Regions from separate parts of the Homo sapiens genome. Here all the other regions are reported to be linked to region 5. The links are microRNA targets in miRTarBase. Many come from high-throughput screens and were not tested one by one. Region 5 holds a microRNA gene; each other region holds the end of a gene's coding sequence. Distances are between the middles of the regions.

Evidence for each region. The annotated mature microRNA hsa-miR-6726-5p reads CGGGAGCUGGGGUCUGCAGGU and lies in region 5 at 2,912-2,932, opposite strand. An mRNA with a match to its seed (bases 2 to 7 or 8) in the 3' UTR can be bound and repressed. Matches are read on the target gene's strand: a 7mer-m8 pairs with bases 2 to 8, a 7mer-A1 pairs with bases 2 to 7 and ends in A, and an 8mer does both.
Region 1: miRTarBase lists RPL22 as a target of hsa-miR-6726-5p. Seed matches in the 3' UTR shown: 7mer-A1 at 4,095-4,101.
Region 2: miRTarBase lists CAMTA2 as a target of hsa-miR-6726-5p. Seed matches in the 3' UTR shown: 7mer-A1 at 4,510-4,516.
Region 3: miRTarBase lists CHCHD10 as a target of hsa-miR-6726-5p. The part of its 3' UTR that is shown has no 7-base or 8-base seed match.
Region 4: the mRNA of BICD2 is a reported target of hsa-miR-6726-5p. Seed matches in the 3' UTR shown: 8mer at 1,643-1,650.

The regions. Positions count from the first base shown.
Region 1 is chr1:6,183,969-6,189,598 of GRCh38, reverse strand. RPL22 (ribosomal protein L22) reads left to right here. Exons shown (of 4, transcript NM_000983.4): 4 at 2,783-4,579. The coding sequence ends at 2,927. Among named protein-coding and RNA genes, the nearest start is that of CHD5, 6.5 kb to the right of the region's middle.
Region 2 is chr17:4,964,088-4,969,382 of GRCh38, forward strand. CAMTA2 (calmodulin binding transcription activator 2) reads right to left here. Exons shown (of 23, transcript NM_015099.4): 21 at 5,063-5,250; 22 at 4,820-4,894; 23 at 3,910-4,732. The coding sequence ends at 4,669. SPAG7 (sperm associated antigen 7) reads right to left here and starts at 3,730. Exons shown (of 7, transcript NM_004890.3): 1 at 3,633-3,730. The coding sequence starts at 3,717. LOC124900387 (a long non-coding RNA gene) reads right to left here and starts at 3,626. Exons shown (of 2, transcript XR_007065587.1): 1 at 2,314-3,626; 2 at 1,735-2,232. RefSeq lists enhancers at 2,775-3,452, 3,366-3,865, 3,453-4,129, 4,130-4,807, 4,775-5,295 and 2 more and a silencer at 3,876-3,955.
Region 3 is chr22:23,761,866-23,766,618 of GRCh38, reverse strand. It overlaps CHCHD10 (coiled-coil-helix-coiled-coil-helix domain containing 10), which reads left to right. Exons shown (of 4, transcript NM_213720.3): 3 at 344-491; 4 at 593-785. The coding sequence ends at 612. C22orf15 (chromosome 22 open reading frame 15) reads right to left here and starts at 3,629. Exons shown (of 6, transcript NM_182520.3): 1 at 3,288-3,629; 2 at 2,446-2,532; 3 at 2,222-2,359; 4 at 1,906-1,980; 5 at 1,717-1,826; 6 at 756-898. The coding sequence starts at 3,312. The coding sequence ends at 887. RefSeq lists enhancers at 1-309, 310-1,109.
Region 4 is chr9:92,711,361-92,717,396 of GRCh38, forward strand. It overlaps BICD2 (BICD cargo adaptor 2), which reads right to left. Exons shown (of 7, transcript NM_001003800.2): 7 at 3-4,103. The coding sequence ends at 3,794. Among named protein-coding and RNA genes, the nearest start is that of IPPK, 44 kb to the left of the region's middle. RefSeq lists an enhancer at 5,903-6,036.
Region 5 is chr1:1,293,234-1,299,269 of GRCh38, forward strand. MIR6726 (microRNA 6726) reads right to left here and starts at 2,937; the gene lies at 2,877-2,937. It overlaps ACAP3 (ArfGAP with coiled-coil, ankyrin repeat and PH domains 3), which reads right to left. Exons shown (of 24, transcript NM_030649.3): 11 at 5,334-5,446; 12 at 5,137-5,188; 13 at 4,780-4,880; 14 at 4,589-4,700; 15 at 3,192-3,400; 16 at 2,978-3,047; 17 at 2,782-2,876; 18 at 2,503-2,705; 19 at 2,214-2,321; 20 at 1,485-1,583; 21 at 1,169-1,395; 22 at 857-966; 23 at 590-700; 24 at 1-475. The coding sequence ends at 331. RefSeq lists an enhancer at 3,950-4,886.

The sequences.
Region 1 (5,630 bases), 4.9 Mb from region 5:
CCCCAGTGTACTATTAGGGATTTTTTTTTTTCCTTTTTTTTAGATAGGGTCTTACTCTGTCACCAAGGCTGGAGAGCAGTGGGGTGATCATAGCTCACTCTAGCCTCCATCTCCTGGCTCAAACAGTCCTACCTCAGCCTCCCAAATAGCTGGGACTACACGAGTGCCCCACCATGTCCGGCTATGTCAGGGAACATTTCAACCACCTGAAATTTTGAATTAACCTCATCTGAATACAATATGGTGGAAATAATTGACAAAAGTATACTTTTTAGATGGAATGACCAAATTGATTTATCTTTGCTTAGCAAAAAGTGGACAGTTGAATTGAGATCTTCACACTTTGTGGCGATTGCTTTGTTGGTGTGGAGATTGCTTTGTTGGTGTGGAGATTGCTTTGTTGGTGTGGAGATTGCTTTGTTGGTGTGGAGCACTGTCACAGTGCTCCTTTTTTGGAGATGGTGAGTCTGTTGGTTCATGACATTTGGGTCCTGTGAATATGCCAGGGATCCATGCTGAGCGCGGTGGCTCACGCCTGTAATCCCAGCACTTTGGGAGGCCCAGACGGGTGGATGACCTGAGGTCGGGAGTTCCAGACCAGCCTGACCAACATGGAGAAACCCCGTCTCTTACTAAAAATACAAAATTAGCTGGGCGTGGTGGCACATGCCTGTAATCCCAGCTACTCGGGAGGCTGAGGCAGGAGAATTGCTTGAACCCGGGAGACGGAGGTTGAGGTGAGCCGGAGATCGTGCCATTCCAGCCTGGGCAACAAGAGCGAAACTCCGTCTCAAAAAAAAAAAAAATGCCAGGGATCTCTCTGAGCATCTCATGTAATCCTTGCTATGGTCTGAAGAGATGGTTAGTAGCAGGGATCCCCTTTCACTGTGGGAGAAACAGCTTGGGTAGATGAATTGGCTCTGCTGTGGGTTTGTGTGTTGTGAAATTCCCTCTTTATGGCTTGGGAAGATTCGGAATAGCCTCAGGGCCACGGAAGCAAGCCGGTGAGAGAGCTGCCAAGACTGTGGTGCACTTCATCTTTTTTTTTTTTAATTAAAAAAAAAAATGTTGTGTAGAGACAGGGTCTTGCTATGTTGCCTAGGCTGGTCTCGAACTCCTAGATTCAAGGGATCCTCTCACCTTGGCCTCACAAAGTGTTGGGATTACAGGCGTGAGCCACTGTGCCCAGCCCTTAGGTCATCTTTATGTAGTTAGGGTGTTGGGCACAAAAGCCAGTTTTTGCCTTTCCATAAAGAATGAGTGTTTTGGCTGGTCGCAGTGGCTCACAGCTATAATCCCAGCACTTCGGGAGGCTGAGGTGGGCAGACACTTGAGGCCAGGAGTTCGAGACCAGACTGGCCAATATGGCAAAACCCCCATCTCTACTGAAATTACAAAAATTAGCTGGACATGGTGTTATACACCTGTAATCCCAGCTACATGGGAGACTGAGGCATGAGAATTGCTTGAATCCTGGAGGCAGAGGTTGCAGTGAGCCTGGGCCACAGAAGGAGATTCTGTCTAAAAAAATAAATAAAAGAGTTTTTAAATGATCCCTGTTGTGGTGAGTGTTTAGCTCTCACCTGGCTAAAGCAGCAATTGGGCAGGCTGACTGAAAGGCTTTGTGCTCTCTGGGCGTGAGCGCAGTGGCAGGGTGGCATTCTGTCCCTGTGTGTTGGGTGGTGAGCAGGAGCGAGTGTGTGCACACCCCTAAGAAGCAGTCCTCATCATCCAGACAACCTCAAAAGGGGGTTTGACTCCGTGAGGTGATGTGTGCGCAGCGCTTACAGCTCTTTGGAAACCCACTATTTTCTGCATAAAAGGTATTGAGGTTGCGTACTTAACTGTAAATTTCTATCATGTTATCTTTCTCCAGTGGTCACTAAAAACCATGTTATAGGTGTTTGCTGCATTTTCATGGACAACTGGTACATCTACTTATCTACTTATCTGCTCTTGTTTTTTTTTTTTGTTTTTTTTTTTTTGAGATGGAGTCTTGCTCTGTCGCCCAGGCTGGAGTGCAATGGCGCCATCTCGGCTCACTGCAGCCTCTGCCTCCCGGGTTCAAGCGATTCTCTTACCTCAGCCTCCTGACTAGCTGGGACTACAGGCGCCCAGCACGACGTCTGGCTAATTTTTTGTATTTTTAGTAGAGATAGGGTTGCATCGTGTTAGCCAGGATGGTCTCCGTTTCCTGACCTCATGATCCGCCTGCCTCAGCCCTCCAAAATGCTGGGATTACAGGTGTGAGCCAGTGCCCCTGGCCTAGTTTTTTTTCTTTTTTCTTTTTTTGGAGGCAGTCTTGCTCTGTCACCCAGGCTGGAATACAGTGGTACAATCTTAGCTCACTACACCCTCCGCCTCCTGGATTCAAGGGATCCTCATGCCTCAGCCTCCCGAGTAGCTGGGATTACAGGCGTGCACCACCACGCCCAGCTAATTTTTTTATTTTTAGTAGAGATGGGGTTTCACCATGTTGTTCAGGCTGGTCTCGAACTCCTGACCTCAAGTGATCTGCCTGCCTTGGCCTCCCAAAGCGCTGGGATTACAGGCCTGAGCCACCATGCTGAGGCTATTCTAATTGTTACTGCCGATGTCGATGGTACGTGGCTGATAACTCAGAGCCTTGGCTGGGTGTATTTGCCTTACCTTTGCCATTTTTGAGGCTTGGGAAAACACCTTGAATTGTAATGATTTTGAGTGCTGGGTTTTATAAATGTTAAAATGTTTTAGAATGCAAGCACCAACTGTCTAGTGGAGTTCTTGTGTCCTTTCTCTGCAGGTATTTGAAATATCTCACCAAAAAATATTTGAAGAAGAATAATCTACGTGACTGGTTGCGCGTAGTTGCTAACAGCAAAGAGAGTTACGAATTACGTTACTTCCAGATTAACCAGGACGAAGAAGAGGAGGAAGACGAGGATTAAATTTCATTTATCTGGAAAATTTTGTATGAGTTCTTGAATAAAACTTGGGAACCAAAATGGTGGTTTATCCTTGTATCTCTGCAGTGTGGATTGAACAGAAAATTGGAAATCATAGTCAAAGGGCTTCCCTTGGTTCGCCACTCATTTATTTGTAACTTGACTTCTTTTTTTTTCTGCTTAAAAATTTCAATTCTCGTGGTAATACCAGAGTAGAAGGAGAGGGTGACTTTACCGAACTGACAGCCATTGGGGAGGCAGATGCGGGTGTGGAGGTGTGGGCTGAAGGTAGTGACTGTTTGATTTTAAAAAGTGTGACTGTCAGTTGTATCTGTTGCTTTTCTCAATGATTCAGGGATACAAATGGGCTTCTCTCATTCATTAAAAGAAAACGCGACATCTTTCTAAGATTCTCTGTGGGAAAATGACTGTCAATAAAATGCGGGTTTCTGGGCCATTCGTCTTACTTTCATTTTTTGATTACAAATTTCTCTTGACGCACACAATTATGTCTGCTAATCCTCTTCTTCCTAGAGAGAGAAACTGTGCTCCTTCAGTGTTGCTGCCATAAAGGGGTTTGGGGAATCGATTGTAAAAGTCCCAGGTTCTAAATTAACTAAATGTGTACAGAAATGAACGTGTAAGTAATGTTTCTACAGGTCTTTGCAACAAACTGTCACTTTCGTCTCCAGCAGAGGGAGCTGTAGGAATAGTGCTTCCAGATGTGGTCTCCCGTGTGGGGCCCAGCAATGGGGGCCCCTGATGCCAAGAGCTCTGGAGGTTCTTGAAAGAGGGGACACGAAGGAGGAGTGACTGGGAAGCCTCCCATGCCAAGGAGGTGGGAGGTGCCCTGGAAATAGCTGCCTCATGCCACTTAGGCCATGACTGGATTTAATGTCAGTGGTGTGCCACAGTGCAGAGGCTAGACAACTGAAAGGGGCTACCAAGGCTGGGAAAAAAATGCAATTGTTGCTGTGAGTGACTTTGAAAGACTCTGGTGCCTTGTGGTGCCCTTCTGAAATTCAAACAGTAATGCAAAAGTGTCTGCATTAGAATTTACGGTGTCTAAAATTCATGTTTTTAAAAGAGCTTGCCTACAGATGGTTTCCACACTTGAAATTGTGCCCTGCGAGTTGCATAGCTGGAAGTTCAATGCTCAGTCCTACCTTGGCTCCCATTAAACATTTGGTGCTCTGTGGATTGAGTTGAACGTGTTGAGGCTTTGCAATTTCACTTGTGTTAAAGGCTCTGGCATTTTTCCATTTCTATGCAAATTTCTTTGAAGCAGAATTGCTTGCATATTTCTTCTCTGCCGTCACAGAAAGCAGAGTTTCTTTCAAACTTCACTGAGGCATCAGTTGCTCTTTGGCAATGTCCCTTAACCATGATTATTAACTAAGTTTGTGGCTTGAGTTTACAAATTCTACTTGTTGCATTGATGTTCCCATGTAGTAAGTCATTTTTAGTTTGGTTGTGAAAAAACCCTGGGCTGAAGTTGGCATTTCAGTTAAAAGAAAAAAAGAAACTAGTCCCAGATTTGAAAACTTGTAATAAAATTGAAACTCACTGGTTTTCTATGTCTTTTTGAACTCTTGTAATCGAGTTTTGATCATATTTTCTATTAAAGTGGCTAACACCTGGCTACTCTTACTGTACGAGGCTTTGTTTTTTTTAAGGACTGGCATGTGAAGAAAAGCTTTGTCCTCACGAATTAGTTGCTGTACCAACAGTTACGTTGGTCTTTATTAGGCTTAGAAGAAAAGATGTCCTTTATTTCCACTTTTCTTCCCTTAGTTGTGCTGTTTTGCCGCAGTGAGATTCAGGGGTTGGCTGTCACTGAACTCTGTGTAGAATTTCTCCAGATCCAGAGTCTGGGGATCAACTTTGCCAGCAAATGCCGTTTTCTGATGGGGAATAGGTAGTGTCAACTTGAATTCCATCACAACCATGACACCAGCTGCGCCCAAAGCACACTGTAGACCAGTTTCCTTTGTTTTGACTCACACCTCACTTGCCTGATCGAAAATAGTTGAGGCACAGGGGCTGACTGGGGTCGTGGAGAGTTTCAAGCCGTGATTTAAGTTCATAAGAGTCCGGAAACAGGAGGTTGGTCTCGTCTCAGCCAATGCCAGTTACACAACACCTTCACGCCCTTCCCTCGAGTGTGCTGGTACAGCTGAGGAAATGAGGTTTGTTGATGTCACTAAGTGCTACGAACTAGTCACTTCTAAAGGCTTCATGTTTTCCCTCCAAAAAGCCTCTGATCCCCCTTTTCCCATGGCACTTCCAGTGGTGAAGTGTTTGGGTTTTGAGGACTGTTGTCCTCATACATTTTCAGGAGCAGCCAGGTGTTGAAATACGTGGGTCCTAACTTTGCTCATGAATGGTGTGTAGCACAGAGGTGGTCAGAAACACGGGGAAAGTGAGGAAGTTGGATAATACCAAGTGTCTTAAGACAGTTGATATCTGGGGCTATCTAGAGCTCAGCCTTTTTAGGGGACACTTGATTTCCTGGAGGGTGATAAGGACCCTGGTGATGGGGAATAATGGTCCGGCTGTTGAAGTCATTGATGTCAGGGGAGCCTGGAATTTGGTGTTGACACCTGATTTCACTTTCCATTTGTACATGGGACTCAGACCCTTAAACTTGTCAAGTATTGTAAACCAAGACCTCCCACAGGAGAGGGGGACCTAGGATGTGGGACA
Region 2 (5,295 bases), not on the chromosome of region 5:
CCCAAAGTGCTGGGATTTCAGCTGTGAGTCCCCTCGCCTGGCTAAGGGTCTTATTTAACTTTCTTCCTCTTCCTTAGATCCTGCCTCTGCGCCAGATCCCCTCTGCCTCTGGAGGAGGAGGAAGAATTTCTAACCCGGGCCCTCCATGCTTGCCTGTCTTCCCCACGATGTGATTTTACTACCTCTAGAGATTTGGGTGCATGCTTCTTCCTACTCCTGCTCCTCAGCCTGAAATTTTTTTCTCTTTTGCCATTTCAAATCCTTTACATCTTTTTTTTTTTTTTTTTTTTTTGAGACGGAGTCTCGCTCTGTCGCCCAGGCTGGAGTGCAGTGGCGCAATCTCCGCTCACTGCAAGCTCCGCCTCCCGGGTTCACGCCATTCTCCTGCCTCAGCCTCCCAAGTAGCTGGGACTACAGGCGCCCGCCACCACGCCTGGAGAATTTTTTGTATTTTTAGTGGAGACAAGGTTTCACCGTTTTAGCCAGGATGGTCTTGATCTCCTGACCTCATGATCCACCCGCCTCGGCCTCCCAAAGTGCTGGGATTATAGGCGTGAGCCACCGCACCCGGCCAAATCCTTTACATCTTTAAGGCCTCCTTCTTCCCCAGGATCTGAATCCTCTCCAGCTGCACTGAACCTCTCCCCATCATTTATTTATTTATTTCGAGACAGAGTCTCGCTGTGTGCCCAGGCTGGAGTGCAGTGGCGCGATCTCGGCTCACTGCAACCTCTGCCTCCCGGGTTCCAGTGATTCTCATGCCTCAGCCTCCCGAGTAGCTGGGATTACAGGTGTGAACCACCACACCCGGCTAATTTTTTTTTTCTTTTTCTTTTTTTGAGATGGAGTTTCGCTCTCTTTGCCCAGGCTGGAGTGCAATGGTGCAATCTTGGCTCACTGCAACCTCTGCCTCCCGGGTTCAAGTGATTCTCCTGCCTCAGCCTCCCGAGTAGCTGGGATCACAGGCATGTGCCACTACACCTGGCTAATTTTTTCATTTTTAGTAGAGATGGGCTTTCTTCTCCATGTTGGTCAGGCTGGTCTCGAACTCCCGACGTCAGGTGATCCGCCCGCCTCAGCCTCCCAAAGTGTTGGGATTACAGGCGTGAGCCACCACGCCCGCCCATTTTTTTGTATTTTTCGTAGAGACGATGTTTCGCCATGTTGGCCAGCCTGGTTTTGAACTCCTGACCTCAAGTGATCTGCCCGCCTCAGCCTCCCAAAGTGCTGGGATTATAGGCATGAGCCCTCTCCCCATTTTTCAAATAACTCCATGCCTTTGCACACGTTGTTCCTCTGCTTGGAATGCTTTTCCTCCTCTTGCAAACATTGAGATCTACCGTGAGTCAGTTACTTCTTCCCCTGGGCTCCAAGCTCCTTTGGCTGAGACACCCAGCAGCATAGACAGAGAACTAACGTATCATAACTTCTTTTTTTTTTGTCTCCTTCAGCATAGTATGAGCTCCTGGAGGGCAGGGACCCTGTTGATCTACTGTTCAGTTATCCTCTGGAGCCCCAGGGCCTGACAGCTTATGAGCTCTCATCCCTCTGTCCTCACTGACCATCAGCGCATTTCATCTTTTGTTGTTGGAAACAGTCTCAACTTCATCGCCCAAAATGGAGTGCAGTGGCGCAATCACCTCTCACTGCAGCTTCAACCTCCCAGACTCAAGCGATTCTCCCACCTCAGCCTCCCGAGAATTGGGACCATAGGAGCGCGCCACCAAGCCCAGCTAATGTTTATTTATTTATTTATTTATTTATCTATTTATTTATTTATTTATGAGACGGAGTCTCGCTCTGTCGCCAGGCTGGAGTACAGTGGCGCAATCTCGGCTCACTGCAACCTCCTCCTCCTGGGTTCAACTGATTCTCCTGCCCCAGCCTCCTGAGTAGCTGGGACTACAGGCACGCGCCACCACGCCCAGCTAATTTTCGTATTTTTAGTAGAGACGGGGTTTCACCATGTTGGCCAGGATGCTCTCGATCTCTTGATCTCGTGATCTGCCCGCCTTGGCCTCCCAAAGTTTTGGGATTACAGGCGTGAGCCCGGCCAATTTTTGTATTTTTTGTAGAGATGGGGTTTCTCCATGTTGCCCAGACTGGTCTTGAACTCCTGGGCTCAAGCGATCCGTCCGCCGCGGCCTCCCAAAGTGGTGGTATTAAAGGTGTGAGCTACAAGGCCGGGCCCCACTGACTGTTCTTTAACTGGTTTTCGAGTCTTCTCTGCATCTAGAGAAGTGGCACAAGATTATGGTCAAGAACATAGGCTTCGAGCCCAGTCATACCTGGGTTTGAAACCCTGCCACTTACCAAACTAACCATGTGACCTCAGGCGAGTGACTCATTTAAGCTTCCCAGTCTGTCAATGCCGGGTGATCCCCCACTTAGACAGTCATCGGAGCATTAGAGAATTCCAGTTCCCCATTCCCATCATGCTTCCTCCTTTCTCAGAGATTTCAAATAGACTCTTCTGCCTGTAACGCTTTGCTTCTCTCTCTCATTTACGGAATTACCTGTTCTGATCTCGGCTCACTGCAGATTGGGGGAGAACCTCAGGTGGCCGCTCTCACAGTTATTTTTCTCTCAGAGCACTTATCAAGTTGGTTATTAAACTTACGTGTGATCACTGCATCAATGAGCGCCCCAGCCCCGGACTGTGGCCTCCCTGAGGGGTACCCCTGGTCCCTAACGGTTGTTCAAGAAACAAGGGGACGAAGCGTAGGCAACCAGCGGCCCTTGAATACTTGGAAGGCGTCCTGCCTGCTCTGGTCCCCCTGGGGCACGTGGGGAGCTGGGACAGGGCTCGTCCGTGGTCAAGGTCCGCAGGTTTGGGAGTTGGGGTCCTGCGTTCCGCCAGTATCATCCCAAGCTGCAACACGAGCAGCCCCGGGGAGGCTCCCACCGCCCTGCAGGGCCGCGCCCTACGCCGGCCGCCGAACTCCAGCCCACCCGCAGGGAAGCTACTCCGAGAACGCAGGCGGAGACAGTGGCCAATCGGACCCGGCGGGTATTCTCATCCCTCCAATCAACACTACGATCCGCCCGGGCAGCTCGGGAATTTAAGGCTACGGATGGGAAAAAGGTTGTCGGAGGGAGGCAGAAGGGACTGGGTTAAATTAAGCAGGAGGGGCAAGAACACACAGAGGACCCTGCAACCAATGGGAATTCGCAGGCTGGGGTGGTTTCGAAGGAAGGTCGAACAGGCCTGAGGAGGCAGAGCTTTAAGTTGAGATAGCCAATAGAGATGAAGGCACAGTAGATGGCGTGTCCTAAATCCAATCGAAATAGAGCTAGAGGTGAGCGGGGCAGGAATGCGGCAGGTTGGAGGCACCCTACCAATCAGACCAGGTCAGCAGCGGACAGGCGGGACGGCCGGCTAATGGGAAACAAGGACTGCGGAAGGCCAGGGTCGGGAGAAGAGGCAGGAGGCTGGCGCTATCTTTCAGGTAGCCAATCACTGTCCGCTAAGAACAGCGGGCGTGTCAGCAGCCCTTTTAGGGACTCTGAGGGTCTCGGAAGGGGCCTGTGAGGGGTCTTTCAAGGTTGAGGAGGCGGCATCGTCCAAAGAGGGAGAAGTATGGTCCCGAGAACCGGGCGAAGGAAGGCGGTTGTGAATTTGGGATCCTCACCTCGGGCCTTGCGCCGAGTCTCCTGGTCACCGAGGCTGGGTGGCTTCTCCATGGAGCTCAGGATGGAGCCCAGTAGGTCCGCCATCTTGGGAGTGACTGAGAGGGGGCGGTGCGTCTTAAAGGGAAGGGCGGAATGCCTTTAAGGCCGGAAACACGTCGGAGGCGGAAAACCCTGGGCCCGCCTGGCCTGGGCGCAGATCCCAGGCCCGCGGTGCATGGCGGCCTCCAGCTGGCCTAGGCCCCGCCCCGCCCCCGCAGACAGAGGCCGGAGGCTGGCTGGTGCAGCGATGTTTAATGGCAATTCGTATAAACCAAGCCCATGCACAAGTAGAAAGTGCCCGTGGAGCCGGCAGGAGGCCCCCGCCGCGCTAGAGAACCACAAGCCCGGCCGTGCAGCCCTCCCCGCGGCGCCTTAAATAGATTCTTCACTATACTCTGTATGTTACAGTATGTACAAGACCCCTCCCCTCGGGGGACGGGGCGGACTCCGCAACGCGTTCCTATGTACACCACCTCCCCTTCGGCCCTGAGGTCAGTGGCCAGAGTCGGGTGATGGGGTAAGACAGGGCCAGAGAGGGAGGAAACAGACGCAAACATGCGGAGTCGGGTGGGGACACGGTCAGCCCTGAAACACGAGGGGCGTGCGCAGCGAAGGCAGTGGTGGGAACCGAGGCGGATACATTCAGAGACGCGTCGAACAAATAAATAAGGCAAGTCAGGAGGGGGCCGAGTCGGGTGCAGGCAGGAGGAGCTGGGGAGCAGGGGCAGGCAGGGCTCCGGAGGTCACAGCGGAAGATGCAGGTATGTGGGGCGCGGGTTTTCTGGAGCCAGGACCAAAAGAGACGGGGCACGACCAGGAGGGACGAGGAGAGGGGTGTGGGAGCAAGGCGTGGGGAGGAGGGAGGAGGCCTACAGAGGGCTCCAACAAAGGTGAACAGGAAAGCTGCCGACAGGGGCTCCCCCTGCCCCAGAAAGCCCTCTCCCTGTTAAGACTGCACGAGGCGCCCCCAGGGTGGTGAGAAAGGCGGTGGCCAGGTCATGTGGCCAGTCCCGGCTGGGGAAGCCCTTCCAGCTCCTGGTTCTGCTTCAGTTCCCTCATCCTGCAGAGAGAAAGATAGGAGTCAGAGGAGACTGGCGGATCACGACGGGTGGCAACGCAAAAGCCCAGGGGGAGAAGGGATGAGTACCTGTGTCGGCAGCGCCGCAGGAATCTCATGATCTTCCGGGCTGCCTGGTCCTGCTTCTTGGTGAGAAAGGAGCCTCTGGTGAAAGAAACAAAAGATGGACCTCACAGAAGGCATCGCATGCCTTCGGCCCCCCCAGGAACCCTAGGCAGGGAATGGCAGTGAGGCATGATGATCAAGAGGATGAGTAAGGGGGAATGGCGTGGATGCAGTGGGTGGGCACAGAGGGCTGGGGCTGGGCCCTACTTGTTGCGGGCAGGCAGGGTGGCCGAAGTCCGGTGGGGAGGGCCGGGCCTGCGGCGGTAGGAGCGGTAGTGCTGCTGGATGAGCACAGCCGCTCGGCGGCTCTGCTGAAATCGCTTCTGTTCATAGTAGCTTCGGAACTTGCTCTGGATCAGGATGGCCGCCTGGGTCATCTTCTTATAGAGTGCAAACTGCAGGGGTGGGGAGGAGGGACAGGGGCTGAAATAGAGGGACGG
Region 3 (4,753 bases), not on the chromosome of region 5:
TTGTTGGGCATGGTGGCGGGCGCCTGTAGCCCCAGCTACTTGGGAGGCCAAGGCAGGACAACCACTTGAACCCGGGAGGCGGAGGTTGCAGTGAGCCGAGACTGCGCCGCTGCACTCCACTCTAGGTGACAGAGTGAGACTCTGTCTCAAAAAAAAAAAAAAAAAAAGGCAGCAGAAACATGCTGTCTGTAGCCGCCTCTGCTGCTGGATCACTCAGCCTGCCTAGGACCCTTGGGACACCCAGGCTGGGGATGTGGGGAGGGGCAGGTGGCCCCAGGTTTGAAACGCACCTCCAGGTGCCAACTCCAAGCTGATCCTGCAGCCTCTTGCACTGTACCCCCAGGCCCCCACCCCCGCTGCCCCCCAGCCCCTGCAGATGGGGCCCTGCGCCTACGAGATCAGGCAGTTCCTGGACTGTTCCACCACTCAGAGTGACCTGTCCCTGTGTGAGGGCTTCAGCGAGGCCCTGAAGCAGTGCAAGTACTACCATGGTGAGTGAGTGGACCCCGACTCAGGCGGGGAGGGGGAGAGGCCAACCCTCCTCTTGCACCTGCAGGCTGACCACCAGCCTGTGCTGCCCCTCCCTTCCCAGGTCTGAGCTCCCTGCCCTGAAGAGGTCGGTGCAGACTCGGGGGCCAGTCCTGCACCCACCTCTACCCCTCGCCGACAGCCAGACCACAACACCAGATTGTACCCAGATAGCTGGGATTGGAAGTGAGGAGGTTTCTCACCCCACAGATAACCCAAGACACAAATGTGCAATTAAAAGTTTATTTTAGACCACAGCCTGTTGTGTGCCTCTCTCGATGGCCTGTCTTCAGGGAGCTCCCTGGCTGATGAGGTGGGGTCAGGATGGATGTCTCACTACAGTGTGCAATCCATCCCCTTAATCAGGGCCCTGGGTGGGGAGGAGGAGCCCTGTTGCAATCTGCACTGTGGGTAGCACAGGACAGATTCCTTGGGCAGTCCAGAGTGAGGTGGAGAGGCATTAGTCGGTGATCCCAAGGGCATCTGACTCTGAGGGTGGAATCCCAGGATGAACCCATGGTCTCCCCCTTATCAGGGATACCTGCCACCTCTACCCTTCTTGTCTCTACCTCTGCATCCCATTCTCTGCACCCACAGCTTAGGTGCCCCTGGCGGCCTCAAATCCTGTCTGACCTTGCCCCTCTTGCTGATGCAACTTCTCAGCAATTCCAGATTCTGCAAGAGGAGTCCTGCTGGGTTGTTGTCTGTTTGCACCTGATCACACAAGGCAGAGGTCATGGCTAACCCCCTTGGGTCTGAGTCCAACTTGGCTAGTTGGCAGTAGTGTGCCAGGTCCCCAAGCCTGCCAGAATGGAAGAACAAGCCCTTCAAACCCAGTGTGGGCCGTGCCATCACACACCATGCTGCCGCCTTCATTGAGTTCATCCAGCAGTTGTGCACTGAGCTCCTACTGTGTGCCAGCCCCTATGCCACATCTGTGAAGCCTGAGGACATTCCGGCCCTTAGTGCGCTGGCACTCCCGTGGGGTGGTGGGGACCTGTCTCAGGGTACAGTGTGTTCCATCTGGGGGTATATGTGCGTGGAGTTGGTGTTGAGGGTCTGCCCCTCATCATATGTGTCTGTCCTGCAGGAAGGGATCCCACTCTGGGTGTCTCTGTGGATGTCCAAATCTGCTCTGTACCTGGCTCCCTGCCCCAGCTAGCAACTCCTGGGTGGCAGGGAGCTCACCTTTCTGGGCCTTGAAGTGGGGCTTTGCTCATGGCGGCCTCGCCGAGTGCCCATACGCTTCCTCCAGTTGTGGCCCACAGAGGAGAGGCCTGACAGCCTGCGCAGTTCCTCTGGAAGGCCCAGGAAGTCCTGTTGGTAGGGGTTAGGGAGAAGGTGTGCCCTCCCCCTGGGCTGTACCCTGACACTCACCTGCCAGCTCTGGGTAATGGTCATCCAGGTTCTCCAATAGGGACTCATAGCGGGTGGAGGCCATGTCCTCTCCCTCTGTGACATGTGGAGAGACGATGAAGGACACCTGACTGGCCTAATGGTCCCTACTCTGCCTCTCACTCTGGAACTGTTTGCTAGTCCAGGCTGGGAGCAGAGCATTGGGTAGGGATGGATTGGGGCTAGGTCCCCAGCCGAGGTGGGAGGCCGGACAGGGCCTTGGGTGGTCTATGGTCTGCTATGCCCCCCTCTTACATTCTACCATAGCTGCAGGGGAGAGAACCTTGGGCCACCTTACTGATGATCCGAACGAGGACATATATGGCTCGCTCCTTCAGTAGGGAGTTGCCCATGGTCTGGGCCCGGGAAGCCCCTTCCTTCAGGTCCTCCTCCAGGCTCACTAGGTTGCCATCCTCAGCCAGGAGAGCAATGGTCGCTGGGAGGACATGGAGAGAGACTGGGCAGGGCTGGCACCCCTGCCTGGGACCCCTCAGCCCCTCCTTCTCCTCCCTGTCTCCTCACCATCTGGGGGCAACCCTGCTTTCTGCCTCAGGTGGGCGGTGAGGTTCACCAGCCTGCAAGAGGTGTTCACCAGCACCGAGCAGCCAGCTGTGGAGAGGGGCAAAGGTGAGCCTGTGAGATCTCTTACCTTCCTCCAAATCGGGGTCCTCTGTCTCTCCCTCCCATCTCTCCCTTTCCCAGAGCTGCGACTGGGCCTATGGGCTAAGACTGTGCCCCGGGCATAACAGCTCCAACATCTGTTGCTTAAACTGCCTTGGAGAACCCTCCATCCATCTCCCATGTGTGGTGACTTTTCTCCCATGTGTGGTGACTCCCAAGTGTTGGTCTCTTGAGTCCTGCAAAGCACGAAGTGGGCGCCAGCCCAGCCTCCTCCCGGGACCCGCCCCCACGGGACCCAGCCAGTCCCCGCCCTCCGCACCCACCGGCTCCTCTCTTCCCTTCCGCTACCGCACAGGGCCGACCCGCCTCCAGCCAGAGGCACGGGGACCCTGCAACTGTGGCTAGAGTTTCAGGTGTCTGATGCACGCTGAAGCTTGAGGATCACGGATTGAATGGCGAAGAGATTGTGCGGCTTAAAAACCTGCTCCAGGGTAATGCGGCGGTCTCTGGCCGAGAGGAACCCTTGTGAATGAGCAGGACTCAGCTCGGGTTTTCCCTTTAAGGGACTCGCTCCAGGTGCTGGCTTCGCCTCCTCACAGAGCCGCTTCCCCGACGACCCCCGCCATGTGCACCACCCCCCTTTCCCGCCATTGCCTCCCCACCCACCGCAAGGGCGGAAGGAAGCACGCCTCTGAGTGTGCTCATCCCCCTATCCGCCTACCAAGACAGGGGACCCCACTTACCCCCAAACATCACCTTGATAAACATAGCTGCAGCGGGTGAGGGAGATGTGGGGGGCTTTGATCCCCCAACTCTCGATTCCCCAACTAAGGAAAAGCGTGGAGCAGAGACCTGCTTCAGGGCCGGGCTCTGGAGGGAGAAGTGGATGTGTGAGTGTGGATGGCTGGGTCCCAGGGCCAGGCCCCTGCTCAGCCACCTCTGTGGTTCTGCTGCTTCAGCCTAGCTCAAACCCTGCAGCTAGTCCAAGACTCCTGGCCTCCTCTTCCTCCCCACTGAGCCCTGGGCCACAGCAGCTCCCCTAAGCTTCCAAGCTGGTCTCCATGGCAGTGGGGGCGGAGACATCTAGGCAGGAAATGCCTTCCTCCCTGTATCCGTTAACGGGGCCCATGGGGGAGAGGTGACAGAAGAAGTGGGGGCTGGCATTCCCTGAGGCGGGGAATGCCATCATTGGGATTGATTTTTTTTAGAGACAGTCTCCCTATGTTGCCCAGGCTGGTCTCGAACTTGGCTCAAGCAATTCTCCAGCCCCAGCCTCCCACAAGTGCTGGGATTGCAGTTGTGAACCACTTGTACAGTAAAGTTCACCCTTTCTGGTGTTTTAAAGTTATGCCAACTCTCATATAACCACCACCACAGTCAAGATACAGAACATTTCCATCACCCCCAAATTCCTTTGCCCCCTTTGTACTCAGCCCTAGTCGCTTCCAGGTCCATAGCAGGTCACAAGCACCTCCTTGTTAGCACTGGCCACTAGCTAGTCCCTCACACCGGTTCTCACCGTCATTTCCTGTCTTTTATTTATTTATTTATTAAGTTTATTAATTATTATTATTATTGGTGTTTTTTAAATTTTTATTTTTTGAGATGGAGTCTCCCTGTCACCCAGGCTAGAATGCAGTGGTACGATCTCGGCTCACTGCAACCTCCGCCTCCCGAGTTCAAGCGATTCTCCTGCCTCAGCCTCCCAAGTAACTGGGACTACAGGTGTGCACCACTACACCTGGCTAGTTTTTTTTTTTTTTTTTTTTTTTTTTGAGACGGAGTCTCGCTCCCTCGCCCAGGCTGGAGTGCAGTGGTGTGACCTCGGCTCACTGCAAGCTCCGCCTCCCGGGTTCACGCCTTTCTCCTGCCTCAGCCTCCTGAGTAGCTGGGACTACAGTCGCTCGCCACCACGCCCAGCTAATTTTTTTTGTATTTTTAGTACAGACGGGGTTTCACCATGTTAGCCAGGACGGTCTCAATCTCCTGACCTCGTGATCTGCCCGCCTCGGCCTCCCAAAGTGCTGGGATTACAGGATTACAGGCGTGAGCCACTGCGCCCGGCCTTTTTTTGTATTTTTAATAGAGATGGAGTTTCACCATATTGGTCAGATTGGTCTCGAACTCCTGACCTCAAATGATCCGCCCATCTTGGCCTCCCAAAGTGCTGAGCCACCAAGCCTGACCTATTTATTTTTTTTTGAGAATG
Region 4 (6,036 bases), not on the chromosome of region 5:
CATGTGCTTTGTCTTTTTATTATTCTTTATTGGTCCTACCAATGTGACTCTTTACCCAGGCCCACTGTTCCTATGCGCACTGGCTTTGTAGGCATTCACATCATATGTCTGTGTCCTGAAAATCTCAATTAATTTCTCCTTCCTATTCCTTTTCCATGCTCTGCCTCATTTTCTCAGAAATTGAAGGCATTTGATTATTATTTTTTTGTTTGGGTCTGTGTAAAGGTTCCTTGGCAGGAGAACATGCATATGACTTTAAAATAAAGACCAACATTCTGACACTAAGGTAATGCACAGAAAAAATACAGTACTCAGACATCATTGCAAATAAATACCCCATACAGATGAAGTTATCTCAAATGTAACAATATTTCTTATGAATCAACACTGTAACGGAAGGTAAAAATAGGAGTCCCTACAACTAGGAATAAGAAATGCTTATTCCAGGAAACAGAATTCTTTTATTTTTGTCATTTATATTATTATAATTTTTCCTTTTTTGGAGAAGGAAGGACAGTTTTTCTTCCTCCAAGAGTACCAATTTGACCACTCCCACTAACCTCACTCAGCAAACAAAACAGGATGTAGACCTGGTTTGCTAAGGAGTTTTAATGAGTTCTGTTTCCTGAAATTAACAGTGATTAGTTACACCAAGCAAGAGAAGATATAATGTCTCGCTTTCACATTTGCAAAGAATACTATGGCTAACCCTCATCCCCTACTGCGCATGCCAACACAGCGTCGGCCCTCCTGATACCCTCAGCTCTTCACAAACGTGGCGTTCATACAGCTTGCTCAGCTTGTCCCAGAAGGTCCATTTGGTTCCCAAAGCACACTCAAGGTTTTGTGTTTGCTTTCATTTTCTAAGCCCCTGAATTTGCAAGTAAAGAATCACTGACTAACAGAATTTTGCACAATGACTGTTTTCTTTCCCTCAATGAAGATGCCCAGGTCTGGGTGTGAGGAGCACCTGCCTCACCTGCTGTCCACGCTGGCCTTCAGCATGCCCACTAGCTCTTCCCTGCTCGCTTTTGAGAATGATCTGTGCTGGGACACCTCCCTTAACTGATGAAGGCACTACTGGCAATGATTACTAACAAAAAGGTGTTGAAAGAGAACACCCTAAAAATCGACGACTGTAGAATTTTCTAAGTGTACCACAATTTGGCACAACAACCAGAGTAACAAAACAATTCCAATTTGGAATTTTATTGGTACAGTTGTATAAAATTCTGTTAATCAGTCATGCTTCACAACGTCCTAAAACCCAGAAAATTCTGGAATTTGTAGGTAATACTACTCATTCAATAATTTATCTTTTTTTTTCAAGTGCCTATTACTGTTTTAACCAGAGCAAAGGTCAAGTTTTCTTCTTGTTACATTGAACTATTCCTAAGAATAATAATAATACAATATGAAAAACCCCAGAATCTGAATACCCTGGATTTCTTAATGAACATGGCATTTAAAATCTGTAATTTCAAACATGAACCACAATGCCGTATGATCTAAAGGCTGCTGAACCACAGCGTGGATACACTTAGCTGAGCTCCTCGCTGGGTCAAAGCACTCATCTCCGAGTCTAAAGCTACACGCTATGGAGCACACAGCTCTGCCTCGTGCTGACACCAGACAAACACGGTGGGAGCTGAGGCGGACAGCTACAGGACCACGAGCATAGACCACGGCACCTGAGACCGTCTCTACGCGAGGAATTAAGGAAGCAAATATAATATCAAAATATCAAAAGTGCACAGGTTGATCGGATAAAAAAAGAACATGTGTAACAAGGAGCCCCCGTGGTGGGCGTTTCCAGTGGGCTCCTGGCGAGCCTGGCAGCCAGGGAAGAAGGGTCTTCGGCCCATACAGAGGCCTTTCCACGCAGCAGCTCGCAGCATGCTCAACATTAAAGCTTTTTTTCCTCCCATTAAAAACCTGGGGAATGCTATTTTGAAAAGAATTGCAGTGGCATATCCAAAAAGTTTCTAAGTGGGCTTTTAGGTTGCCCTTCCTTCCTCCTTGTGGGCCACGAGAGGGAAGGGGAAGGGGCTGCAGTGTGACAGGGCCGGGTGGCCAAGTCCTCCTGGCAGCTACTCTACAGCTGAAAACGGGAGAAAAGAGAGCGTTAGAAAGCGGTCATCTGTCGCTTCCTGTTTATCTGACAATTGAAGCTCTCCACGTGCTGGGAGGGCGCGAGCACGTTAGTTGGCAGAAGAGAAGACCTGCATGTGTTAGCAGGGGTCCCAGTGGCTTGGGTGTCTGCAAAGTCCCTTAGGAGTATGGAGAGAAGCTATGTGCCAGGCTTGCAAGGAGAGGGCAAAGCGCATGCAGGGTGGGCATGCCAGCAGCCATCCCACTGCGAGTCTTGCTGGGGCAGGGGGATCTGGGCCCAGGATGAACACGCAGGGGACATACATGGGCGTGTCCTGGAGTCTGGAGGGGACCGAAACATACTCGGCACCAAAGGGAAGAACGCGCAGGGCAGAGAGCTGTGGGAGGGGGCAACACGGTCTCTCACCAGGTAACTCGAATGCCTCTTCCGCATGAGAGACAAGGCAAGCAGCCTGCAGGAGAGAAGACTGCAGCCTCAGGTCCAGCTGGTCCCACAGGGTGATCGGGAAAAAAGTACTGAGAAAAGTTCTGCTCAGAATGTGGGAAGGCAGGTGTGGATGGAGCCTCTGGAAATGGGAGAACCCTACAGCTACCTTTCCTCTTTCTCTGTTGCCATCCCCCAGATTGCACTAAATAAAGAGACCTAAACATCTCCTACCTGTGAATCCTGACAAGTGGCCCTGGCCCTATGCAAAGCTTTCCCAGCACCGGGCTGGGCTCTGGATACACCTGTGGGTGTCCAACCCAGCCAAGCCCTTGGTGGCTCAGACTTCAGGCTAGGGTTTTCAAAGCCCCATGTCTTTGGGACTGAACCCCCTATGGAAGGCCGGATAATTGGCTGCTGGGGTCACCCCAAGTACAAAAGGACGGGCTCTGCACTAAGGACCAAGGTCTGGCCAGGCACTTGGAAAGCTTTTCTCATGAAAAATGAAAACCTGGGGCCTTGGGCCCTGCCAATCTGTCACCTCACAGGCCACTATACAAGCATCCTGATCTCAGAAATGAGAAACCGAGCTCTGGATTCCTGGGTTATGGTCAGCTGTGTCTGTGCCATGTGTGTCTGGCCAGCAGAATACAGGGGCTCAGGGCTGCTCTTCTCTGGGCTTGGGGAAGAAATTCTGCACTTCTTTCCTGAATATGATTTGCAGTCAGATACTGCATAAACTACAACGTACTCCTTTCCATGAAACTATGCCAAGTGCAAAGCCATCCTCTGAGGTCGTACCTATGCTGCAGGCTGGAACCTCCTAAAACTGCTTTCTAGTGCTGACATTAGACACATGCGAGGAACATGCAAGTCTCAACTCAGGTTCTGCCCCTTTTGGGTGCTGAGGGAGCAGGACCAGGACTCCTCCCTTGGGTTTCCCCACGGGTGCGCAGGGCTTAGAAGATGCTTTCATCACACATCTGCTGCAAGAATGTGCAGCTCTATCCCCACCTCTGACCCCCACCTAAGAGAGCAGCTGAGGACTGGGTGCTCCTGAGGGGGCTTTGAGGAGTGAGAAGCGACACAAAGCTCTCACAAGTGTCCTGCTGATGCAACGCCCCATGGCGCCTCGGCTAGACTCCTACCCTCTGTGCATTAGTCACGTTAAGATTGACCTAGCACCGCCGTCCCGCTGCTGCTGGGTTAGTTGAGGTGAAGCAGATGTTAGCTGCAGCGTGCGGCGCCCCACAGCCCCTAATCACAGTAAATGCTGTGCTTCTCGCTGCAGAACACCTGGTTGGCCAGCCCGGTGCCCTCGGCCCTGTCGCTGGCACAGGCACAGGTGTGACTTACGCTCGGTGTGGCTGGCTTGGTCTTCGGGGCGGCTTTGGCACGGCCACGCCGGGTCTGCTCATGGTCCAGCTCGAGCAGCTCCAGCCGCTGGGTCAGCGCCAGCTTCTGCTGGATGGCCATGCGCAGCAGCGAGTTCAGCGTCTTCTTCTCGTCCTCAGCAGCCGCCAGCTGCCGCTGCATCTCATCCAGCTGTGTAATGTACTCGTCACACCTGTGGGTACCAAAAACATGACTGAGGGGCGGGCAGAGCCGAGCAGAGGAGGGCAGGGCAGGGCAGGGCTAAGCTGCACGGCCCTCTGACAGCCCTATACCAGAGCCATCCTTCAATGTGGCCTCTGGACTGGAGGGTGTGGCTGGGGAAGAATTATTCTGGCTTATTTTAGCACAGGCTTTGCTTGGACAAATCCCTGATAAGGGTGAGAGGGAGGCTTGGGCCCAGGCAGGGCAGCCCTATGAGGCTGGCTTGAGTTTTGTGGTTTTGTGGGGGAGGGGCTGCTTTGCTCTTTCAGCTGCATGTAGTGCTTACAAACAGGCTATGCCCCTCAGCGACTGGGCTTCTTCTAGGAGGCGCTCTCCCCGCTTAAAGGCCTCGAGGTGGCCTGGGGCATCAAGACATGGAGAAGCCATGGCTTCTAGGGTGTGGATGTAAATCTAAGCAGGACTGGGCTTGTTCCCAAGGTCGATGCTTCGTCAGTCTGTGCTGAGCACTGACCAGAGCCAAGGAACCACGTGTGTGGACGCCATCAACAGCTTCATCCTGAAACCCGGGTGCGGAGCTGTGGGAGGGTGTGGTCTGTCCCTGGATGCCCTTCTTCCACATGTCCCATATGGGTGGGGCTTGGTAGAGACAAAGGGCGGGTTAAATCCCAGGGCTCCCAGGGCGGTGAGGCTGTGCAGGCACTGAGCACAGCCCCACCCTGCCCACACGCACCCTACTCTGCCTGTCCCCACCTGCCAGGAGCCGGCCCTTGGATAGCACCCTCTCCAAGGACTCTGCTGCCCACCCTTTTGAGGGCACACAGAGCTGTGATCCCTGCAGATTCAAAATCTTGGCTCCATCTGAAAAGTTTTTAAATAAAACAAATTTTAAAAGGTAGGGTTTACATGCCAGATACTGAGAAACTGTGGGATTTTTTCCCCAAGCCCCAGGAAGACAGGACGCTTCCAGAGAAATCCTGGGACTCTTCCTTGTCTGTACCCTGCTCTGGCACGTCCTGCAGGGATACTGAGAAACTGGGAGTGCACGGCACCAGGCTTGAGAGAAGCAGGCCCTATGTGCATGCAGTTCCCACCCTGTCCAGCTCAGATCCTCAGCTTGCTCACCCATAAAAAGGAAACATCTAGGTTATCTGCTGGGCCCATGGTGGGCCTGGCTGTCCCCCATGCAGGGCTGACCCCATGGTGCTATCCCAACATGACCCAGCAGGTGGCGCTACCCATCTTTGGAAAGTGAAAGACAGCGGTACCTGTCAGGGGGCACCTGGGAAGATGCTGAAACCAGGACCTGCCCCACAGAGGCCTGTGAACACTTAGGGAGCCTCGATTCCCAGCCTTGGGGTCTGAGTCCCAGCCAGGGAGGGGTGTGCACCCACCAGGGGCAGCCCACCTCAGAGCCCATTACTAAGAGCCCTCCACAGAGGAAGAAAGAAAGCTGGTCTCCTCCAAGCCCCGGCCCTCTCCTCACCCTCCCCAGATTGGCAAAGTAGAGGATGGGAGGTGAGTACCCAGCGGTCACAATGACGCAGAGGTACAGGGCTATGCACAGAGGTGGGACCCGAACTGTGGACCCCAGCAGTGACCTGCTCCAGCCAGGAGGATAATCTTCCTTCTGAATCTACAAACATAAATACACACTTGTGCCATATGGCCAAGTTCTTGGGGGCAAATACCTCATGAGAGGAAAGGCCAGGACTCCTCTGTCACCTGTTGGCCCCAAGTTAAGTCCCTGTAAATGTTGGATTCAAGGGGTGGGAGCCCAAGCATCCCCTGAAGCTATGCAACTCTGGCCCATCCACTCCAGGATCTGCTCTCCTCAGCCCTTCTGCCCTCAGTCTCCATATATGCAAAGCAGAGACAAGCCTGGGCCTGCTGCGGTTTCATTCACAGCAAAATGGAACCGGCGCCACAGAACCAGGCTCCTGGGG
Region 5 (6,036 bases):
GACACAGGTGACACGGGCCTTAAAAGTGGCTTGTGACATGAGCAACCCAGGCCCCTGAAAAGGGGTGACCTGAAGACAGAGGTTCCCCAGGTGGGGTGAGGGACACCCGACGATGCAGCACCCCCCCAGGGAAACGTGAGGCTTCAAGAGACTCAGTGTGGGGCCCTCGCTCTCCTCCTGGGCGAGCAGGGCCGCGGCGCCCCAGCACTGGGGCTGCCAGGTATCGACCCGCGGGTCACACGCAGGGCCGCGGCCGGGTGGGCGCCAGGGACTTCGGGGCATGCGGGGCGTCGGGCCGGGCGGGGTGGCAGCTGCCCGGCCTGCCCGGCCCTAGCTCTCTTCCAGGTGGAGGCTGATGAACTCCTGGATACACCTGCGGAACTGGAGCTCCGTGGGGCTGCCCGCCAGGGCGCCCGGGGGACCAGGGGCAGCCTCGGCCTCGCGCATTTCCTCCGCCATGCGCGCCAGACGGAGCCTACGGGGAGGCACAGCGTGAGACGCCCCTGCCCTGGAGGCCCCGCCCCTGCCCTGGAGGCCCCGCCCCTGCCCTGGAGGCCCCGCCCAGCCCCGAGGGCCCGGCCGCGCTCACAGTGTCACGATGTCAGCGTTGGCCGCCTGCACTGCGATGGCCAACGGGTCCCGCTGCTCTTGGTCCAGGGCGTGCTGGTCCGCGCCCCGCTTCAGGAACAGGCAAACCTGGCTGAGGGGCGAGGTCGGAGGGGCGTGTCGGGGCGGGGCGGGGCGGGGCGAGTGTGGTCGCGGGGGCGTGGCCGGATAGGGCATGGCGGACAGGGCGTAGCCGGGCCGGGGTAGGCGTGGTCGGGGCACAGGGCGGGGCGTGGGTTGCGCGTCTCACCCGGTGCGGCCCAGCAGCGTGGCGTGGTGCAGGGGCGCCCGGCCCCGGCTGTCTCTTTGGTTCACGTCCGCTCCGTTTTGCAGCAGGAACTCACAGACGATCAAGGAGCCCTGGGGAGCCGGGGCAACTCAGACGGAGCCACGGCACCGGCCCCTCTCCGCGCCTCTGCACCCTGACCCCGGCCTTGGGCGCCCCCAGCCGGGACCGAACGTGGTCCCCACCGCGGACAGGCGACCCTTGTGTGGGCGCCACAGAAGATGCAAACGCGACTGTGCACCTGTGTCCTGCGCGCAGCCCCCGTGGCTCGCTCACCCCTAGCACGGCCTGCACCAGCGGCGTCTTGCCCTCATCCTCCGCGTCCGCCCAGTTGACCTCGGCCCCGTGGGCCAGCGCCGCCGCCAGCGCAGGAAGGTCGCGGGCACGCGCTGCGCGGTGCGCCAAGAGCCCCGGGTGCAGCTCGCGCACGTCCGCCAGGCCCCAGGCCTCGGCCTCAGTGTCCCCGTCTGCCTCACCGCTGGACTCCTCCGACTCTGCACCCTCTGTGGGGAGGGGGCGGTCAGGGAAAGCAACCCCCGGGGCTGCCCAGGGGCTGGGCAGGGGCCTCGGGCGAGGGCAAGACGCCACCCACCCTCCTCAGTGACGCTGTCCACCACAGAGCCCGAGCCGAAAGCCAGGACGTCCGAGCTGCCATCCGAGCTGCCCCCAAGGCCACTGTCGCTACTCAGACCTGCAGGTCCGCAGGGAAGGGGGTCCTGAGGGTGGGAGGCCCAGACTCCGTCCAGAGCCCTGGGGCAAGGCTGGAACTCCACCCACCCTCCAGGGGCCACCCCTAGGGACAGGACCAGCTCCCACCCAGGGCCGGGGGGAGCCAGCTGCAGGCTAGGAGCAAAGGAGAGAAAACCAAATAACAGCTCAAAGGTGCCAGGGGTAGCCCCCTAAAGCCCAGGCCTTTTGGGAAGCCCTTCCCTCCCGCTCGCCGCCTTACCCGGCACCCCCCGCAGTGGGCCCCCCAGCCCCGTCTGTGGCTGGCCCAGGCTGAAATGTCTCCACCCAACCAACGGGCAGCATGGCTCCAGAAGGGCCCTAGGCTGAGGGCCGGCTGGCAGCGCCCTCTGCTTCCCCAGCACCCCGGGCCACCCGCTGTGTGCACACACCCAGGTGCACACAGCCCACACACACATTTGCACAGCTCACCCCTGACAGTCAGGGCCTTGGCCTCCAGCTGTGTGGCCAGGAGGCCCCCCGCCCCTTCAGATGCTGCTCCATTCCCTGGCAAGGGCCATCCACACTCAGGCACCCTTCAGGCCAGCCTCCTTGGCCCTGCCCTGCCACCTGGCTGGGCCCACCCCACACTTACTGCGAGGGCCAGCCCCTGCGGCCCCTGCGTCGAAGTAGGAGAAGAGCGAGTCCAGCTCGTCGGGACAGAAGAGGGAGTCTCGGCGGAACTTACGATCCAGGGTGCCCACTGCAGGGGCAGTGCGTGTTCAGAGTGTGGAACAGGCCCGGGGTGGGGCAGGGAACCCCAGGTCACGCCGGGAGTCTGCGGAGCCTGAGGTGCCCCCAGAGCCCTGCCACCAGCCCCTTGACGGAGTCCATCCCCGACCAAGGCAAGCCCCTCCCAGCCCTGCCGGGGCATGGCCTCCCACCTGAGGACAGAGCGGCCACACAGGGCAGAACGGGCTCAAGCCGGACCTTGCGGCGGGCAGTGGGAGCGCGGGGAGAGCTGTGGGGCCGCAGGCACTTCTGCACCCTCCAGCGTCTTGGGGCCTCCAGGGCTGGTGCCATGGGCGCCTTCCGCAGAAACTTCTTTTCCACGTATTTGTCCTTGATCCAGGCCTCCTTGTCCTGCCTGGACCAGGGGGGAACATGAGGCTGTGCCCCCAGGCTGGGGCTCCCTGACTGATCCAGACTGTACCCCACCTCACCGGGAGCTGCTGGCTGTGGGTTTCCTGCTGCCTGCACCCTCACACTGGGCCTCATAGATCTGATTCACAGCGCTGTTTCCAAGCTCACACATCAGCTAGCGGGAGACAGGGCGAGCAGGCATCAGTGCGAACCTGCAGACCCCAGCTCCCGCCCCCACAAACGGGGTCCCGTGGCCTCCAGGAGCCCCACACGCACCTTTAGCAGCTCAGGCTCCCACGAGTCCAGCGTCAGGGACCGCACCTTGGAGCAGTGGACACCCAGGCTCCTGGAGAGCAGAGGTAGGGATGAGTCTGGGGGAGGCAAGGCCCCCAGCTCCGGCCCAACCCCCACCCCCGGCCTGGCCCTCAGGGGCCCACCTGTGGATGCTCCAGCCCAACCCCCACCCCCAGCCTGGCCCTCAGGGGCCCACCTGTGGATGCCGGAGCACTCAATGCAGAGCAGCACGCCCAGGTTGATGCTGGCCCAGCGGGGGTCCGGCTGGCCGCAGTCGCCGCACTGGCTGTTGCCGGCCACACTCTGCACACGCTGCAGCACACTCTCGCCCTTCACGCCACGCTCCCGAGTGTCGGTGGCGGAGTCGATGCTGCTCGTGGACGGGGATGCTGTGCGGTCCAGCCTCTGGAGGATGGGGTGGAGCTGCTCGGTCCCGCAGGGGCTCCAGCATGGTTTCCCCAGCAGGCCCCCTCCTCCCCAGCCAGAAGAGCCAATGCAGGCCAGGGCCCCTCGAGCACACGCCCGCACACGCACGTACACGCGCACACCCTCACGTGGGCAGATGGCCCCCCCCTCGAGCACACGCCCGCACACGCACACACGCGCACACCCTCACGTGGACAGGTGGCGCCGAGCACACGCCCGCACACGCACGTACGTGTGCACACCCTCACGTGGGCAGATGGTGCCGAGCACACTCCCACACGCGCGTGTATACGTGCACACCCTCACATGGGCAGATGGTACCTGCACACACATGCACATCCACACTGCACAAGCCAGCATGCCAGTGCACACCAGCACACACCCAGCTTGCAGGAGCCACACACAGGCGTGTGCACGTGTGTGGGGCAGGGGCCATCCCCAGTGGCACGTAGGTGTGTGCACCGGCACGGGGCAGGGGCCATCCCCAGTGGCACGTGTGTGTGTGCACAGGCGCGGGGCAGGGGCCATCCCCAGTGGCACGTGTGTGTGTGCACAGGCGCGGGGCAGGGGCCATCCCCGGTGGCACATGTGTGCACGGGCTTGGGGCAGGGGCCATCCCCGGTGGCACGTGTGTGTGTGCACAGGCGCGGGGCAGGGGCCATCCCCGGTGGCACGTGTGTGTGTGCACGGGCTTGGGGCAGGGGCCATCCCCGGTGGCACGTGTGTGTGTGCACAGGCACGGGGCAGGGGCCATCCCCAGTGGCACGTGTGTGTGTGCACAGGCGCGGGGCAGGGGCCATCCCCGGTGGCACATGTGTGCACGGGCTTGGGGCAGGGGCCATCCCCGGTGGCACGTGTGTGTGTGCACAGGCGCGGGGCAGGGGCCATCCCCGGTGGCACGTGTGTGTGTGCACGGGCTTGGGGCAGGGGCCATCCCCGGTGGCACGTGTGTGTGTGCACAGGCACGGGGCAGGGGCCATCCCCAGTGGCACGTGTGTGTGTGCACAGGCGCGGGGCAGGGGCCATCCCCGGTGGCACGTGTGCACGGGCACGGGGCAGGGGCCATCCCCGGTGGCACGTGTGTGTGTGCACAGGCGCGGGGCAGGGGCCATCCCCGGTGGCACGTGTGTGTGCACGGGCTTGGGGCAGGGGCACCAAGGGCCACACCTCGCTATAGCAACTGTCAGGGCTCTCGCGGTAGGCGGAGGCGATGCTGGCCTGCACAGCCTGGACCCAGGCTTGCCGCAGCTTCTCGGAGTCAGCCTGCAGCATGCAGCTCCTGCAGGCAGTGGAGGGGCGGGCGTCAGCTCCGGTGGGCAGGTACGCCCCCCGCCCCACCCTGGGCTGGGCCTCCTCACTTGGTGGGTGACAGCACCTCGAAGCAGAACCTCCGCTCGATGTCCTCACACGGCTTCACAGAGCACAGGCGGAGGTCATCCACCACCACGGTGAGGGCATCCTGTGGGCGGCACCGCTGTGGCCCCTGCCCTCAGCCACCACCCGGCCCCGACCACCCACTTCCTGCTTCACCTTGGAGACCCGGAGGCCGACTGCCTGAGCCCCAAGCCCCGTGTCCAGCTCTCTGCTCCCTGACTGTTCCGGCTCCGGCGTCCACTAGTGCCCCGGCCCTGTGCTAACCCCAACTGACCAGTCTGCCCTGTGGCCCAGGTGGGGCGTCCAGCCATCAGGGCCCCAGCCCCAGGCCCAGGGCACACCTTGAGCTTCTTCTGGTAGACCAGCTGGCTGTTCTGAATGGAGAACCAGCGCCTAGGTGGGTGGGGGGATGTGGGGAGTCAGGCGGGGCCCATCCCAGGGCTGCTGTGACCCCTGCCCCCACCTGAGGACCCCACCCCCGCCTGAGGACCCCACCCCCGCCTAAGGACCCCGCCCCCACCTGAGGAAGGCCTCTCACCGGTTCCATGTCTTGAAAGCGTTGCTGGCCCTCTTGAAGAGGTAGCCCTCCATCACCACCCCACTGGGCGCGTCCACGTCAAACTCCACTTTGGACTCATCGTAGGAGAAGTCCTGGGGGGATGGAACCCGCCCCCTCAGTGCCCACCCCAGGGGCCCTGCTACCCTCCGTGCTTTCCCGGAGCACAGGTGGGGGTGAGGTCCTTGTCTGAGGCTGCCACACGGCCCACGGACCACACGCTCAGACGAGAGACCCTCTGTTCACCACAGCCACTTCTTGACCTGAGCAAGGCCCCCAGCCCTGCAACCCGTGGGGCAGACCCCTCACGTTCACAGCTGGGGGCCCGAGAGTGCCGGCCCCACCCCAGCCCTGCAGGGACCAGCAGGCTGCGATCAGGAAGGAAGCTGCGCCCCCACCCTCCGCATCCTGAGTGCCCCATTCATGTGGCCAGCTGGGCGGACAGAGCCCCATTCAGGAGGCCTGGGAGTCACTGAGGGCCCTGTGTGTCCCGCCATCTGGCAGGCCAGGGAAGCAGAGGGGAGGGGCGGCCACCTGCTCCCCAGGCCACATGGGATGGGAAGGGACAGCTGCCGCCAACCCCACGGGGAATGTGGAGGTCTGGCCGGAGCCAGCCCCTCACAGCCGCATCAGCAGCAGGAGCCGAGACTGGTGGGAGGTGTCCTTGGTGCTGAAGTGCCCTTGG